2 linked regions of the Homo sapiens genome follow. The protein of the gene in region 1 interacts with the protein of each later gene in a pairwise test. Each region holds a gene or a part of one and is shown in the gene's direction. Other genes may lie near its edges.

Region 1 (3,751 bases):
AATGAGTGAGAGCGTCTGTTCCCCACAGCATCATCAACAGATTGCACTGTCAAACTTTATAATTTTGTCAGTCTGGTGGATGAGAAGTGATATTTCATTCTAGTTTTAAATTGCATTATGTTTACTATATGTGAAGTTGAACATTTTTTCATATATTTAGGGTCATTCATATGTCTCTCTCTCTCTCTCTCTCTTTTTTTTTTTTTTTTCTTTTTTTGAGGCAGTCTTGCGCTGTCACCCAGCATCGCCCAGGCTGGAGTTCAGTGGCAGGATCATGGCTCACTGCAGCCTCAACTTCCCGGGCTCAAGCAATCCTCCCACCTCGGTCTCCCAAGTAGCTGGGACTACAAGCGCTCACAACCTCGCCCAGCTAATTTTTGTACTTTTCGTAGCAATAAGGTTTCACTGTGTTGCCCAGGCTGGTCTTGAACTCCTGGGCTCAAGTTATCCTCCTGCCTCGGCCTCCTGACGTGCTGGGATTAAGCATCCGGCCATAATCTCATTTTTAAAATTCAGATCTCTAGTCCATCTAGAGTTTATTCTTGTATATGATTTTTAAATAAATATAATTTATATTTTTCTAAATGGCTATCTAGTTTATCCCAACAACATTTCTTAAAAAAATCATCTGTGCCCCAGTGATTACAGATATCACCTTTGTCCTATACTGGAAGTCTATACATAGCTGTGTTTATCTCTAGACTTTCTGTTCTCTTCCATTGGCCTGTTTGTCTAGTCATGCACCAGTACCACATTGTTTTTTTTTGGTTTTTTTGTTTTTTTTAATATACTTTAAGTTCTAGCGTACATGTGCACAACGTGCGGGTTTGTTACATATGTATACATGTGCCATGTTGTTTTAATCATAGAGGCTTTGTAGTATGCTTTATATCAATTAGGGCTAGCACCACCTCAGAGCTCTTCCTTTTCAGGGTTTTCCTAGCTAGTCTTGTGTATTTTTTTCCCATATAAACTTTAATATCAACTTGTGTTGGTCTTTTAAAATACTCATGGTTATTTGTATTAAATTTATAAATTAACTTATAACGGACATCTTGATCAATTTAAGATGTGCCAAAAATAAGGCATGTTGTTCCATTGGGGAAGTTATTGGCACTTCGAGATCCGATGTTCTCTCTTAGATACTTCCTTAGGTAGTTTAGGTCATTAAATAAAATAATAAATATTTCTTGAGCAGCTACTATGCCCTTGGCACTATATTAAGCACGATAGAAGTAAAAAACCAGATTCTGTCCTCAAGCAGCTTAGAATTTCACGAGAGAAACAGACTAACACACCAAAAGCAAAGCAGGCATGCTGTATGAGCAAAGAGGAAATGGGGAGTAAGGAGGGCTAGAGCCACAAGGTAGTGAGACTGGAATCATGTGCCCTGAGGTTGTGTAAGATTTAGGCAGGGCAGCAAGGAGAAGGAAGGGATCCCAGTGAGGGGAACCCTGGCAAAAGCTCAGAGGAGGACTGAGTGTGACAGGTTTCACAGGGCAGAGGGCCCCATCCAGACTGTTAGCTGGAATCCTGGATGAGGCCCTCTTCCAGTCTCCGAGAGTTATGCCTCCATATTAACAGTCCCCAAACACTAATTATGTATTCATTAAAATGATGTTAGTGAATGTTTGCTGGGTTTCCAGATACTAGCCCTTTAGAATGGTAATTTCTGTACATTGTTACCTTTTCAGGGAATGGCCTTGAGTTGTGCCATCCAATACAGTAGCTACTTGCCATGTGTGGCTGTGGAGCCCTTATGATATGGATAGTGCAACTGAGCAACTGAATTTCTAATTTTATGTAATTTGAATTCACTAAATTTTAATTTTAAAATGAAAGTAGTATAAAATATTTTTCATTAAACCCAACTTTATTGTGTGGGGAGGGCTACATTTTAAACATAGTATTGTATAACATATGATTGCTGTATCACAGTATGTGTGTCCAATTTACTTTTTTTAATGTGGCTACCAGAAAATTTTAAATGACATATGCTGCCCACATTGCATTTTGCTTTGACAGCACTGGTCTAGAGTCTCACAACTCAGTGTGGTCTGGCTGGACTCACGTGAGAGCCATCCCAGACTCTGCACTTGACTAAGTCAGGATCTGCACTTGACTAAGTTCCCCAGGTGAATCTTATGCACAATAAGATAAGCACTGATCTGGACGACCTCAGAAGACATCCAGCCACTGGTAGGTACCCAGCATGACCCCCCCCAATCCTTATGGGAGGAGGCTGAGGGAGCAACAGGGAGACCCCTGACTGCCGTTGTGACATCACAGAATAAACCCCACGGGTCACCCAACCCCGCCCTGGCTGGTGTCTGGCCCTCAGGACATCCTCTCCAATCCACCACACACCACCTTACCCCTCTGCTGGCAAGAGGGGACCTGATTCATCCTCACGCTAAACACTCATTCTACCCAACTGATTGAGACAGAACAGAAGATAAACTGAAACTTCTCTGCCTTCCCGCTGCAAGAGTGAATGAGCGATCCCTCTCAACTGACTCAAAATGTTTGCCTCACCCAGGAGGTAGGTACAGTGATTTTGAAATCTCATGAACATCTCATACACATATCTTTACTGCTGGATTTGTAACACAGGTTACACTAACTCATCAATTTCATGTATTTCACATGGTCACAGTAAAGAGCTTGGAAATGCACTATAGGGTTCTACAAAATGGAATGAAAATGTGTCACTCAGCCCAGTTTTCATAGATAAAACTGGTATGTCCATACCTTGGCCTATTACCTTTTCATCTTCCTTCATTAAAACTTCCATTTCTTCTTCCCTTGTCTCATCATCTTCCTTCTCCTTTCTGTTCCCAGGGCTCCCTATGCCTCTCCTTTTTTCCTTTCATCTGCATTATTCCCGTTGCCAAAATCTGGAGCCTGGTAAAGGCCCAGTAGCGGTGGCAACAATAGAGCTGTGTGTCACCCCAGTGAGCTGAAAGAGCAGACATCAAGCTCTATGCCAGAGAACAGTGGGGCATCCCCAAGGTCCTGCTGGAAGGCAGCTCTGATCTGGAACTGGGAAGGACAACACACAGTCAAGCTCTTTCTCGTCTCAGAGAATCCAGCAGAATCTTCAGGGATCCTTCCAGACCAGGAAGACTCTCACACTCTGCAGAGAAGTTGCGGCTTGTTTAGCATTTGACCTACATTCAGAAACGACCAGCCTCCCAACTTTCAGCTCTAAGGATTACTTAAAAAAACAAATGGTGTTCATTCTCAGATATCTTGCCTTTCTCAGGAGAGAAAAATGAAGCTTGCAATTAGCCAGCAAACTAGCACATACACAAACACACACACACGTACATACACTCCAACACAGGGAGCAATGTGGTATGTTGTTGACCAGCTGGAAGTTAGGATCTCAAAGGAAAGAACAGGATAACTTAAGAGGCACTTCTGGGACTGCAGAGCTGAGCTGGTGGTTCTGAAGAGCCATCGGAGTGTGGGTTCAGGCAGCTTCCCTAATTCAGAAGCAGCCCCAAGTGAATAGATGACAAAGAAGTGGATGTGAACATGACAGAAAAAGCCAGTCATGGCTTAGAATAAATTTTATTATTGTTCTTTATCAGTGGTTTTCCAGGAGAGACACAGAGGGAATATGGGAGCGTCTGGTTGCTAATATGTACCTGAGAAGTATAAAGTACACTTAATCCATTGCCTCAATCTGCAGGAGGTCCCATAAATCTGGCCTGCAATCTGTACATTTTGTTAAAGGTGACTGTGC
Region 2 (3,751 bases), on another chromosome or scaffold:
AATAAGGGCTGAAGTTGTGTGGACTAGAATGAGTACAGGCCTGTGGGGGGTCAGAATCCCAATTCTGACATCTAGAAACTCTGTAACATACAGTCTTCAACCTGTCTGCAACTCAGCTTCCTCGTCTGTCAATACTCACTTGTCTGAATCATTGAGAGATTAGAATGAACATAGGCGGCCGGGTGTAATGGCTCATGCCTGTAATCCCAGCACTTTGGGAGGCCGAGGCGGATGGATCATGAGGTCAGGAGTTCGAGACCAGCCTGGCCAACATGGCGAAACCCCGTCTCTACTAAAAATACAAAAATTAGCTGGGTGTGGTGGTGGGCGCCTGTAACCTCAGCTACTGAGGAGGCTGAGCAGAGAATTTCTTAAACCCAGGAGGTGGAGGTTGCAGTGAGCTGATATCTCGCCACTGCACTCCAGCCTGGGAGACAGAGCGAGACTCCATCTCAAAAACAAAAAAAAGGAATATAGGCTGGGTGCAGTGGCTCACGCCTGTAATCCCAGCACTTTAGGAGGCCAAAGTGGGAGAATTGCTTAAGGCCAGGAGTTGGAGACTAACATAATGAGACCATGTCTGTACAAAAGTAAAAAAATAAAAATTAACTGGGTGTGGTGGCACACTTCTGTAGTCCCAGCTACTCAAGGGGCTGAGGCAGGAGGATTGCTTGAGCCCAGGAAGTCGAGGCTGAGGTGAGCCATGATCATGCCACTGAACTCTAGCCTGGGTGACAGAGTAAGACCCTGCTGCTTTTAATTTTTTAAATTATTTATTTTATTTACTTAGTTTGTTTTTGTTTTTGTTTTTTTGAGACAAAGGCTCCCTCTGTAGCCCAGGCTGGAGTGCAGTGGCGTGATGTCGGCTCACTGCAACCTCCACTTCCTGGGTTCAAGTGATTCTCCTGTCTCTGCCTCCCGATTAGCTGGGATTACAGGCGTGCACCACCACATCCGGCTAATTTTTGTATTTTTAGTAGAGACGGGGTTTTGCCATGTTGGCCAGGCTGGTCTTGAACCCCTGACCTCAGGTGATCCGCCTGCCTCGGCCTCCCAAAGTGCTGGAATTACAGGCATGAGCCGCTGCGCCCAGCCAGACCCTGTCTCTTTTAAAAGAAAGGCAAAAGAAATATAAAGCACTTAATCAGTGCCTTGCACTAATGGGCAATCAATAAAGTGATGCTGTATCATCATCATCAATTCTACGATCAATTCTCAGGCTTTGGAGGCTTTAGAATCTTTCTATGTCTTTGGATGTTGTGGCCTTTATTCAACATACAAGTTTGTTTGGAGCTGGTGGTCAGGGATATGGTATTTTCACTAAGTTAGGGATGGAGCTTTGTAAGAAATCAGTATAAAGGAGGAAAAAAGAAACAAGCGTCCTAAAGACAGAACATTTACAGCTGAGCAAGTGCTGATGGCTGCCTTCACCACGTTCTGCTGCAGCGGTTCTCAGCATTTATGTGCATTTCTGAAAGATTCCCACTCTTTTCTCCCCAGAGTCTGAATGGAGAAGGTCTGGAACAACCTGAGATTCAGCATTTTTAGGAGTGTCTCTGGAGATTTTGAAACACGTGGTTCAAGGACTCTCTGTCTCTTCTCCCTCCCCCAAACGAGAAACTGCTGCTTGTGTCTGAGAGTCAATACGAGATTTAAAAACAGCAACAAAACCACTGCTCCTGGAATGGCCCAGTTCCCATGGCCACGACCAGCAAAGTGGGCCTGATTTCCTTAGGAGGGGAAGAAGTGACGGCTGCAGAGCCCTTGACCATCTCGGTGTCTGGGCTCGAGTGTCCCGCCACCCCCAGCGTCTGCAGGTCACCCCCACACTGACGCCGTCTCAGTGAGCTAATGCCAGTGTCTGCCCCGCGCCGGCTCATTCAGCAGCCACTGGAATGATCAATGAGGCCGGCCGCCCAGCCCTCCACCGGCTGTTGGTGAATCAGCTGCCTCGGCCATTCCCATCTCCACTGAGCAGGAAGCACTCGAGCTGAGCCCAGCCAGGGCTGACTGGCGTCTGGCTAATGGCTTTTCTGTGTCATGCACTGACCTTGATCCCATATGTTTTTCATACGTGAGTGGGTTGGAGTGCCTGAAGATGGTCCAGTGGTGGAAATAGCTCTTCTGCCAAGCCCCTTACCGAGGTCCTGGGCAGTACTTTGGTTTAGAGGTGTCTGCTTCTGAAGCAGGATCGGTGCTTTTGTTTAAATTGAGGTGAAATTCACATAACATAAAATCAACCAGGTTAAAGGGAACAATCAGTGGCATCTAGTGCATTCTCAACGTTGTGCAAAACCACCTCTATCCAAAAACACTTCCATCGCTCCAGAAGGAACCCCTGCACCTGTTGCATGAGTTGACTAGGGCTGCTGTAACAAAGTGCCACAAACTGGGTGGCTTCAACAACAGAAATTTGGGGCCAGGAGCAAGTGGCTCATGCCTGTAATCCCAGCACTTTGGGAGGCTGAGGTGGGTGGATCATTTGAGGTCAGGAGTTCAAGACCAGCCTGGCCAACATGGTGAAACCCCGTCTCTACTAAAAATATAAAAATTAGTCGGGTCGTAGCGGCGTGCGCCTGTAATCCCAGCTGCTTGGGAGGCTGAGGCAGGAGAATCACTTGAGCCTGGTAGGCGGAGGTTGTGGTGAGCCAAGATCGCACCACTGCACTCCAGTCTGGGCGACAGAATGATACCCTGTCTCAAAACAAACAAACAAACAGAAATTTACTGTCTCACAATTCTGGAGGCTAGAAGTTTGAAATCAAAGTGTCAGCAGGCTTGGTTCCTTCTGGAGGCTGTGGGGTGAGGGAAGGATCCGGTTCGGACCTCAACCCTTGGCTTTTTTTTTTTTTTTTTTTTTTTTGAGATGGGGTCTCGCTCTGTCATCCAGACTAGAGAGCAGTGGTGTGATCTCTGCTCACTGCAAGCTCCGCCTCCTGGGTTCACGCCATTCTCCTGCCTCAGACTTCCAAGTAGCTGGACCACAGGCACCCGCCACCACACCTGGCTAATTTTTTTGTATTTTCAGTAGAGGTGGGGATTCACCGTGATCGCCAGGATGGTCTCTATCTCCTGACCTTGTGATCTGCCCACCTCAGCCTCCCAAAGTGCTGGGATTGCAGGCGTGAGCCACTGTGCCTGACCAACCCTTGGCTTTATAGATGGCCATTTTTCTCTCCACATCATCTTCCTCTATGCCTGCCTGTGTCCCTGTCTAAGTTTCCCTTTATTATAAGGACACCAGGCATTTTGGATAAGGGCCTACCCTAATGACCTCATTGTAACATGATTACTTCTGTAAAGACCCTATCTCCAAATAAGGTCACATTCTGGGTTACTAGGGGTCAGGACTTCACAGTATGTATTTTGCGGGGACACAATTCAACCTTTAACAACATTAGGCAGTATCAGTACTTTGTTCCATTCTATGGCTGAATAATATCCCATTGCATGTAAACATTTATTTTTTGAGCCCCAAGTACAAAGCAACTGTCAGTGAAATCTCCACCCCCTGGGTAGTGTGTGCCCATCTGTATAAGGTGGCATATTGATCTCACAGGTAGAGCTCACAAATCTGCAATGTGTAAACTTTTTCTTATTGTCTTCCTCCTTGAAAGAGTGTTAGCCTTTACGAGCAAAAGTCAAAGCAGTACTGGACTAAGGGAAGAGAAGTCAAGCTTCTGATCCTAAAATTAATTTTAAAAATTGATTTCAGGCTGGGCACTGTGGCTCATGCCTGTAATCCCAGCAC

The links.
Region 2: the proteins of GSG1 (region 1) and PITPNC1 interact in binary tests that used the Homo sapiens proteins (3 or more experiments, as listed by UniProt).

The regions. Positions count from the first base shown.
Region 1 is NC_000012.12:13,102,256-13,106,006, reverse strand, and holds the start of GSG1 (germ cell-specific gene 1 protein), read left to right. Parts: upstream 1-2,339; 5' UTR 2,340-2,494; coding exon 2,495-2,542; intron 2,543-2,656; exon of another isoform or gene 2,657-2,739; intron 2,740-2,841; coding exon of another isoform or gene 2,842-2,922; exon of another isoform or gene 2,923-3,751. UniProt on the Homo sapiens protein: May cause the redistribution of PAPOLB from the cytosol to the endoplasmic reticulum.
Region 2 is NC_000017.11:67,527,247-67,530,997, forward strand, and holds part of PITPNC1 (cytoplasmic phosphatidylinositol transfer protein 1), read left to right. Parts: intron 1-3,751.